Linked DNA regions of Homo sapiens: region 2 is linked to region 1. Evidence: fine-mapped expression QTL. A gene starts in region 1. The other region holds a variant in brackets. All regions are shown on one strand. Distances are from middle to middle.

Region 1 (5,371 bases):
TTTTACTTCCCACTGTCAGACACTGTCTCATCCACTCACCCCTCTTCTGTTTGCTTATTGCACATCTCAGCTCATTCAAGCACAATTGAGCACCTACTATGTACCAGGCTGTGTGCTAAACACATTACATATATTAACTCATTTGTCCTTTCAGCAATCCTATGACGTGGCATCTTACAGGTAGGATGCAAAGAGGTAAAGTGTCTCACCCAAAACCACACAGCAAATAAGCAGTGGGCCAGGAGTTAACCCAAGGCCCCTGGCTCCAATGTCTGTGTTCTTAACCACTCACTGCTTTACACTACCTCTTCCATCAGCCCTACAAGGGCAGGGATTTTTGTCACTGCTGTGTCCCCAGCACCCAGCCCAGGACCTGGCATATAGGAAGCGCTAAAAAAAATCCAAGGAATAAATGAGTGGACGAATGAGCGAATGATCTCACTGAGTTCTGAGAATATCTTTCCAGGTGGTATTTATGGATGAGGACACAGAGGCTCAGAGAGGTAAAGTGACTTGCCCCAAGTCACACAGGGAGTGTGTCACAGCACTGAGATTGGAACTAGGATGGGAGGTCTGCCCCTCCGCCCTCCTGCCCCCCATGGCCCTAATCTCTCCAGACAGTCCCTGCCCCTGGACTGTGGGCCACATGAGGGCAGACGTGTGCCTGTCCCTGGGCAGTCCTGGGATCCAGCCTGGGGTCTGCACGCGGTGGAAGGCAATTCCAGCTCCTCCCCTTGGCCCCAAGGCCTTCTGAAAGGGAGACCCTGACAATAACACTTCCTCACCCGGTCACTTTCCTGACTCCCAAGCAGTGATGAATTTCCCAGACAACGCCTGCACCTCACCGCCACCTCTGGGCCTGTCTGTGTGCTGCTTCCCCTACTGGGAACGCTCTCCCAGCCCTTCTGCCCCAGCCACAGCTTGGAGGTCACCTCCTCCGCCAGGAAGCCATCCAGGCAGCCCCACAGCCCACAGCTCTCGGGGCTGCAGGGATGAATGTGGGACCCTCTCCTCCACGGCCTGTGTTCTGGCTTCTGGCTTCTCCGGGGGAGTTGAACTCCCTCGATTCTCATGCCTGTCCAGCCACTGACCTTCTAGGGGAAGCTGGCTCGGGCCTCACTGAGCTCATCTGTGAGATGGGTAGAAGTTCTGAATGCGATCTCAGGCAGTCTTGCCATCTCTCACATAGGCTCCTGCCCAAGTCCCAGCCGCGGCTGCTCACTCAGCCCACCAAGCCCTGCATGGTCCAACCCCTGCTGGCCCTCCAGCACCATGTCCTGCTGCTGTCCCCTCCTCACACCCCTTCAGCCTCCTTGCCTTTCCTGGAACTTCCCAAACCCATTCCCACCCTCAGGGCCTTTGCACGTGCTGTGGTGAGTTTCCCTCTGCTGGAAATCTCTTCCCCAGGTCTGGTCCTTCTTCTCCTTCAGGCATCTGCTCCACATCACCGCCTCAGAAAAGCCCTCTCTGACCCACTCAGCTCCCAAACACCCCTGCTGATTCCCATCACGGCCCTTCTCTCTGGTGAAATCCTCTCGCCTCTTCAAGCATTTGCTCACCGATGTTTATCTCCTCCATCCTCTCCTCCACCATAGTGAGGGCAGAGACCTTGTTCACTGCTGGGTCCCCTGGAGCCTGGCATACAGTAGGTGCTCAAGCAGTGGTGGTGGAATGAAGGGAAGAACATCAAAGTGCTGCCCCACCCCTGCCCACCACCGGCCCCCAGCCCAAAATCAGGGAGTGGGAACCAGGAGGCCCCACTCCCGCCAGCAGCAGGCGCCCCCTCTGAGCCCGAGCCTGTCTGGTTCCCAGGCCCATAAAAACCACCGCCCTCACCTTGCCCTGGGGCGGCAAAGGGTGAAGGAGGAAGCTGTGGGGTTCAGAGATTGAACTGTCATGGATTCAGAGGCCTGGGCCAATGAAAGTCAGTGTTCACAGAGTGCCTTCTGCGTGTCCAGGTGCAGTTGAGACACCCCACACTCACAGCCCTCACTGCAGTTCTGCAAGATCAGGACCACCACGATCACCCTTCACAGGTGAGGAAACTGACGCACGGTAGGGTGCAGCCACGTGCTCCAGGCTGTGCAGCCTGAGAAAGGTGAAGTCAGCATTGGAACCCAGCTCCGCCCGACACCGCAGCCAGCATTGCTCTCATCCATGGCAGTGCACGGAGACCATGTCGGTGCCAGCTATGTGCCAGGTGCTGGTTCAGAGCACAGGTCCTGGAGCCAGACTGCTCAGTGCGTTAGGCAGGTGACTCAGCCCCTCTGTGCCTCAGTTTCTCCAGCTGTGAAACAGTCCACATGGCACCTCCCTTGTCGGCTGCTGAGGAGACGAAAGGAAATTATTTCCAGTCAAACAGAGTGCTCTTGTTGCATGCCCTTGGGAGAATTCATTCCCGCTCTGAGCCTCAGTTTCCCCATCTATCATATGGGGATTAAACTACGCCACTGTGTTGCATCGCTGCGAGACTAACGTGACGTATTTGCACAGTGCCTCCCGCACAGTGGACGTTTACTCAGAGCTCACTGTTCATTCACTCCAGTCCTGCAGGCCTCACTGTCCCCATCTGTAATCCCAGAAGGCAGCCCTGATCACCCAAGACGGCTGCTAAGTCCCTAGTGCAAAGGTCGAGGGGTCCCAGGGCAGCCCTGACAACTGGGGATATCCTGGGGGTGGGGAGGACAGCTGAGTGGCCGGGATCAGGAAGCTGCAGGGGGCCCAGGTGACTCACCCGCTGGCGGGGCTTGGGGGCTGGGCTGCGGCCCCCACGCACCCCTCTGGGCCCTGCCTTGTGCCCAAAAGTGCTGTGTCATGCTCCGTCATGTGGCTCCGGGTCATTAATACCCGAGTTCTGGGAAGCTTGGGCCGAGTTCCCGGAAGGGGTCAGCCAGTTCAGTAAACAGATTGGCTGGTTCGTCGTCACAGCTGAGCCGGGCGGGCCTGCAGCTCAAGAGGCAGGAGATGGAGGCTGGTGGCCAAGGGGACACAGGAACTGCCCCCGGCCCCATTCGGGGCTGGCACCTCCCAGGGCAGCCTGGCCCAGGCTCTGCAGATGAAAGGAGAAACCAAGGCCCAGAGAGGGCAAGGCAGTTGCCAGAGATCACACAGCAGGTCCGGGGCGCGGACCTAGAATTCTGGTCTTATCATCCAGTGCTCTCAGCATCACTCTGACTGATGGGCAGGGGGGGACAAATCACCTCAAATTGTAACCTAAGCCCCCCAAGCCCCCAAATCCTAACCTGGACCCTAAGGCCAGTGTGTTGGATGAAGGGAGAAATAAATGGAAGGCAACTTGGGAAGGAAGCAACTTTGAGGGGTTACTGGGCTGTCCCCTGTGGTCGATCCTATAATCATAGTAACTGCTTCTAGTGTTTCTTGAGCATCTATTATGTACAGGGCATTACCATAAGTGCCTTCCATAAATCCACCCATTTAATATTCAGCCACCTTTATACGAATAAACACAGGCATCACGTTTAAAGCATCCACTGAGTGCCAGGCACTGAGCTGGGTGATTGACATACACCACCCGGGATCCTCTGCGGACCTTGCCAGGGAGGCATCGCCGTCACCCCTGTTCATCAGATGAGGAAACAGATGCCCAGGAGGGCGAGCAGCTGAGGTGTATGGTGGGAGAACAGCAGGCTCCAGAGTCGACTAGACCCAGGGATTCAAATCTTTACTTTTACCCTTCCTGCTGTATGGCCTCAGGCAAGTGACTCCACCTCTCAGAGCCTCAGTTTACCCATCTGGTAAATGGGGATGATTATGGTACTGGAAACACTGGAGCCAGACTTGGTGGGAGCTCGTGAGTGTCATGATAGGGCAGTGGCTGGAGTGCAGACTTTTGGGTTGAATCTTGCTGTGCCCCTTCTTGGCTGTGTAACCTCGGGCATGCCGCTTAGCCTCTCTGGGACTCAGTGTCCTCTGTAAAATGGACATAGCACCTCCCTCATGCGGCAGGTGGGAAGAATGAATGAGCAGAAATCCCCGCAGCCTTCTGTGCGAGGCCAGGTATTCTGCAGCCACTGAACGCAGGTGACTTGTTCTTATATTTCACCTATGATGGCTCCACTGGGACTGGGGTGAGGGGAAGGACACTAGACCATGGGCAGAAGGACAAGGCACCCACATTCTTTGCTGCCCTTTTGCACCCACAAACAATCTGGAAAGGGAAGCTCAGCCTTGCCTGCCTCCTTGAGGGTCGGGGCTGAGGCTTGGCGTGAATGGTTGCCATGGCATCCTCCCCACCTCCCCACCAGCCACTCTGCCTTGCTATGGACTCCACGTTCCTCCCCTACTTAAAACCCTCTAGGGCTCCCCATTCCTCTTCTCGTGTACTACTCCCCAGTTTGGCTGAGCCCCAGACAGGCCTTATCATGGCTCTTTGGTTCTTGGCACCCCAGCCCCAGCCCCCTTGGTACAAACTCTCACACTCATCATTCCCACCTCACCCTTGTGCACACACAGGGCCCTTCACCCGGCATGCCCTCACTTTCCCTAACCCACCTGCCTGGTCTGGATTTCACCCACCCTTCAACGCACGTATTCAAAACCTCCTCCTCCAGGGAGACTGCCCTGATCCTCCCCTTTGAAAGCGAACTCTTTCTAGACTCTCTCTATATATATACCTCACTTACGTCTTTCTATCATTATATATCAACTATTTTTGTCCACCACCTCAAATTTTGGCAGCTGTGAGGTAGAAAATTTGCACAAGGGAGATTTTGGGGAAAAAATATTGCCTCTAAAATACTTAAAGAAATCTGCTGGCCAGGTGTGGTGGCTCACTACTGTAATCCCAGCACTTTGGGAGGCCGAGGCAGGTGGATCACTTGCAGTCAGGAGTTGGAGACCAGCCTGGCCAACATGGTGAAACCCTGTCTCTATCAAAAAATACAAAACTTAGCCAGGTGTGGTGGTGCATGCCTGTAGTCCCAGCTACTCAGGAGGCCGATGTGGGAGAATCACTTGAACCCGGGATGTGGAGGTTGCAGTGAGCTGAGATTGTACCACTGCACTCCAGCCTGCTAGGCGCGACCCTGTCTCAAAAAAAAGAAAAAGAAAAACCTGCTAAGTTGAAATTTTAAAATCTTTAATTAACCCACTCACACTTTATAATTCTATATTAAATTTCTAATTTAATATTTACAAAAATATTACAAAAATTTTCGAGGCGTTTGTAAACAATCTGCGAGTGAGAATGTTTCTTGTTGGGCAAGCGTTCCCTGGTGTACGCAGGGTTGCCAAGAACCCGAAGTAAGTGGTAAAATAAACGCGCTGCTTGTTGCCACACAATTTCAGAAGTGAAGTTACTAATATTATTGAAGTGTTTGGGTGATTTTTCCAACCCTCTTTTGGGTCCAGT
Region 2 (5,371 bases), 47 kb before region 1:
TGGAACGCTTTTCCACTGCCCTTTTCTGGCGCACTCCTACTCATACTTCAAGACCCTGGCAAGGAAATGATATGAGGAAAGTGGGGCATGCAGGGACTGGGTGAACAGGAAAGTACCTACTATGTGCCACTAAGAAAGGGCCTCCCGCAACCCCACTCCCAGGCCTCCTGTGTCCAGTAGGAATGTGGGCCCAGTATGGCCACATCTTCCCATTTTTCAAGAGAAGCCAGAGAAAAGGACTTTATGTGAAATCTCCTGGCATGTCAGATGTTGGCAATTGATTCACATTAAAAAAAAATACTTTAAGGACCAAACTAAACATATCTCCAGAGTGGACCTGTCCCATGGGCAGCTGTCATGGAGGTCTGCTCTAGGAGGCTTGATGGGTACGAACACCTTTGAGGATAACGAAGCTGAAGCAGTTCTTCCTGGCGTCTCACTTGCGTGCCCTCTGTTGTAGCCATTGTGGGAGGGGTTCTCATACAGCTGGGGCAGCTCTGATGGGGGACAGAAGGGCAGAGGTAGCGCCCCCAGCTCTGAGCCGCACCCACAGGCAACACCCAGCCCACCCCAGACCAGCTCCTTGCCCAGCTCAGCCCAGAGTCCAGGGTGGATGGAGTGTGGGGAGGACTCATCATGGGGGCTGTGAGAAGCCTGTTTATGGCTCCAAAATTCCTATGCCCCAGGCCTAGGGGAAATTAGTGCTCGTATGAGGCTGTTCACCTCCAAACTCCTTGGCCTCTCCAAGAAATTAAAAACAGGGAAACCGAGGCAGGACTGAGCTTCATGGAGACCTGGGCCTGCAGGCCTGGGCAGGCTTGGAGGCAGCCAGGAGGCTGACTTCTCTGGAAAGTCCCTTGTATTCGAGAACTGGCGGGGTGCCGGGGAGCGAGGACACCAGGGGTCTCCTAGTCTCAGAGCCTTCTGCCGGATCCAGGAGCTCCTCAAGCGTCTGCCCTTTCTGGGACAGAACTTTCCAGCAACAGAAAGTTGAGGAAGCCCCTCTCTGGAAACCCTGAGCCTCCTTGATGGGGCTTGCATTCTGCTTTGGGGCAGAATGTGGGACTGTGGGACAGGAGGACGGGGCGTGAACCCCAGTCCTAAGCCCAGATGTCGGCTGGAGATCCTCAAAGCCAGGGCCTCTTCTCAAGAGTCTGATGGCCCCACCAGCCATTTCTCTCACCCAGACCCCAAGTCAGACTGGACACTGTCACCATTGTCCTGGAGGCCAAGAGACCCGCAGACCAGAATTCAAAGCCTTGCCCCGCTGCGGGCTGAGACAGTCGCTTGGGCTCTGTGGTCTCATTCCTGCATCTGTAAAATGCATCCTTCCATTGTAGGAATTCAACAAGCACATGACATGGGGCTGGTGCTGGGCAGAGGAGAGAAGAAGTGACAGTGAGCACGCACCCTGGGCTGGTGCTGAACCCGCCACACACGTCCTTCTTCCCTTCTCACCACAAAACCCTGCATCTGTTCATTCAATGCTGGATGAGTGCCCCCTATGTGCCAGGCTCTGAGATTTAATGGAGGACAGTGGAGAACTGGCCTCTGCCTGCTGGGAGCTTACAGTCTGGCCAATGGGGAGTTATGAACCCCCTAAATTATTGTGTCAAGTAGTGGTCAGTGTTATGGGAAAACATTCACGCAGGGTGAAGAGGTAAGGCCAGGGGAGCAATTTGGAAGGGCCGGGGGTCAGAGCAGGACCCCCGGGGTCATTTAAGCAGACACCCAGATCAGGAGAGGGAAGAAGCCCTGTGGCTATCTGGAGGAAGGATGCTGAAGGCAGCGGAAACAGTGTGTGCAAAAGCCCCGAGGTAGGCGTGTGCTTAGCATGTTGGAGGAACAAAGAGGAGCCCAGTGTGGCAGGGGTAGAGGGAACCAGAGAGAGTGAGTAAGAGGAGATGGGCCAGGCGCGGTGACTCACACCTGTAATCCCAAGCACTTTGGAAGGCCAAGGTGGGCAGATCACTTGAGCTCAGGAGTTCGAGACCAGCCTGGGCAACATGGCAAAACCCCATCTCTACTACAAAAAATACAAAAATTAGCTGGCCGTGGAGGCATGTGTCTGTAGTCCTACCTATCTGGGAGGCTGAGGTGAGAGGATGACTTGAGCCCAGGAGGTTGAGGCTGTAGTGAGATGTGTTGGCACCACTGCACTCCAGCCTGGGTGACAAAGTGAGACCCTGTCTTAAAAAAAAAAAAAAAAAAAGAGACAGAGAGAGAGAGATGAGGTTATAAGGGAAGCATGGGAAAGATCTTGTAGGGCCTGGTAGGCCACAGAGATCTTTGACTTTCTGCCAAGTGAGGTGGGAGCCGTGGGAGGGTTTTGAGCACAGGAAGGTCATGTCCTGACCTCCTATACTCATCCTCATCTTAAAGGTGAGGAAACTGAGTCTCAGAGAGGTGAAGTTACCCACCCAAGGTCACACAGCCAGCAAGTGGCAGAGCTGGAGTTTGCCCCCACATCCCTGTGGCTCCCAAAGCCAGCCTCTTCCCATCCCATCAGCTGCCTCTGTGTCTGGCGTGAGTCAGGAGGCTGGATTGCTGGGAGGGGGAGAGCTTTTTAGAGCTGCTTTTTGGAGCCTCCTGGCTCTGCCTGGCACATCCCCTCCTTCCCCACCCATGCCTTCTCCCTTGCCCTCAGCCACCCCCAGCTGCCTGCGGTGAGTGCCTAACATTTAAGGCTATCCCCTCCCAAGTGCAGATTGGATTTTTTTCTTTCCATAAGTCCCCATTATGCCCCAGTAGACTGGATTTTGGGCAATAGAAAAAACGAGCCTAAAGAACTCCAGCGCTAATTGGGGGTGACAGGCAGGGGCTCGGGGCCTCTGGAGCAGCCTGGCTCTGTCTCTAATTTGCAGAGTGGCCAGGGTAAGTCCCTGGCTTCCAAAGTCATGCTTGTTTGAAGGACAATCACTTTCTTTTTCTTGTAAAAGGAAGATAAATTGTCAGCCTGTCGGTTTCATTATGAGCTCGTCCGCTGTCTTTCCAGTAACTGAGGGCGAGAGGCTGAGCCGCTGCCCAGAGGCTGCCTGTGAGGCCTTGGGGGCTGTGGTTGATGCCACCTGGCC[T/C]CCTTCGCATCACCTCCCTCTCAACACCCCTCCCACCCCCTCCAATAATTGTGGTATTTGGTTTTCCCTCAACACCAAATGTGAAACTCTCCTGGAGGGAGTGCAAAAGGAAGTCTGTGAATCTCTGAACTGTGGTTGAATGAAGGTATTCTTAGGCGCCTGCTTGCAAGGATGGTGAACTTCTGGTGCTAAAAGCAGAATTGCTTTTCAGTAAATGTTATTACTCAAAAGGAAGTTGTTACCACCACAGCCACCTCGAGCCTCTTCCAACTGCCACTCTGTCTGCCAGGCCAAGTGGGGAAAGGGTCTCTCAGTGGCTCCCAATGACCCCATCCAGCCCCCAGGGGAAGGTCTTGCTATCTCAGCTGACCCTGGAGGCCTGAAGCTGAAGTGCAAACAACCACAGTCTGCCTAGGCAGAGTATCTCAAGGTAGGGGCTGTTTGCTGACTCAGCATTTAAAAGTCCCAAAGCTTGAGTGATCTTGGCTGAGCTGGGCTGGAGCTACAGGTGGGGTTGGGGGCACACAAGAAAGCTGCCCGTTGGCTGCAAGGTTGGCTGTTTTTTGAGAGCTGTTGTCCATCTTGGCAATGCACCTTGCCTAACCCCTATTTCCTCTTCTCTAAAATGGAAAGGTGATCATACCTCAATGGAAAGAGCTAGCATATTGATTACTCTAGTAGATACTTAATAAGTGGTGAGGTTATTATCAACAGTGAAAATGATTCTGGATTTAAATCAGACAGACCAGGGCTCAGATCTCAGCTCTGCCACCTACTAGTTGCACAACCTTGGACAAGTCCATTCCCCTCACCAAGTCTCGGTTTTCTCTGGATCACGCAGGAGTGATTATAGCACCTACTGCTCAAAGTTGTTGGGAGAATTCCGTGAGCTGCAGCACGTAAGTCACAAGGCACACAATAGGTATGCAGTAGGCATGGGTTCCACTCCTGCTCCATTTTGCCTTACAGAGGATCACCCCCCAGGCTGTGTCCCCACCTGAGCAGTCCCAACCACAGGCTCCAGGTGGAGAGACACCCATGAAAGTTTGCACCCACCGGGGTCCAGAGGGCAGACAAGAAGCGACCAGGCCAAACTCAGGGGAGTGGAATGGACCACTCAGCAGACACTTCCCTGCAAGAAAGAAGTCAAAACAAACCCCCTGGCTGGTGAGACATGATCCCAATCTAGAGCTCTCAGAGGATGCTCTCGGGTCCAATCCTCTGCCTGCCTCTACCTGTAGCCTTTTCTACAGCCCGGAAAAGTGGCAATTTCATTTACTGGGCAGCCACTGCAAGTGAGCATTGTGCTCTGCATGTCTCATGAATCACGTCATCGTGTCCCCCCAGCAACCCCACGAGACAGTTCCTCTCATTGCTCAGCACCTGCAGGTGTGGAAACTGAGGCCCAAGGAGGTGAAGGGACTGGTAGCTGAGATTTGAACCCAGCCCATCCCATTGTCAAGTCACACACATAATCACCGCACTACTTCCGTTATCTGAGAACAGTGTGTCTGTGTTACCAAAGATATAATTATATTTAGTAGTGTCTGGGTATAGAAAATTGTATAATATATTCTTTTTAAAATGTATTCTTTTGAGATTATTATAGATTTACATGCAGTTGTAAGAAATAAACAGAGAGAGTCCATATACCCTTTCCAGTTTCCCCCAATGTTAACAGTCACAATAAAGATATTGACAGTGATATAGTCAAGATACAGACATTTCTATCACCACGAGGATCCCTCATTGCCCTTGTATAACCAAACCCATCTCCCACCCCCAACCCTGCCCCCGAGCCATGGCAACCACTAATCTGTTCTCCATTTCTATAATTGTGTGGTTTCAAGAATGTTACATAAATGGAATCATATAGTTTATGTAACCTTTGAGGACTGGTTTTTTTCACTCAGCATAATTCTCTGAAGATTTATTCAAATTGTGTGTTATCAATATTTTATTCCTTTGTATTGCAAGTAGCAGTCCATAGTATGGATATAACACAGCTTTTTTTAGTTAAAAAAAACCATAGACAGGCTTCCGGGTGGTTTACCAGTTTTTGCCTATTATGAAGAGAGCTGCTATGAAGATTTGAGCATAAGTTTTTGCACAAACATAAGTTTTCATTTTTATGTCCAGGATTGCAACTGCCAAGTCATAAGGCAGTTTTTAAAAAACTGTTTTCCAGAATACGGTACCGTTTTACATTCCCATCAGGAATGTATGAGTGTTCTAGTGTCTCCATTCCTCACCAGTGATTGAATGCGAAAGTTCCCATCGTTTTTTATTTTGGTCAT

Evidence for each region.
Region 2: its variant is fine-mapped to the expression of LINC01270 in whole blood (TOPMed, PIP 0.96).

The regions. Positions count from the first base shown.
Region 1 is chr20:50,290,194-50,295,564 of GRCh38, reverse strand. LINC01270 (long intergenic non-protein coding RNA 1270) reads right to left here and starts at 2,845. Exons shown (of 5, transcript NR_034124.1): 1 at 2,735-2,845. RefSeq lists enhancers at 942-1,442, 2,556-3,292.
Region 2 is chr20:50,336,762-50,342,132 of GRCh38, reverse strand. No RefSeq gene overlaps it. Among named protein-coding and RNA genes, the nearest start is that of LINC01271, 18 kb to the right of the region's middle. RefSeq lists an enhancer at 2,820-3,019. The variant T/C (reference allele first, on the strand shown) is at 3,075.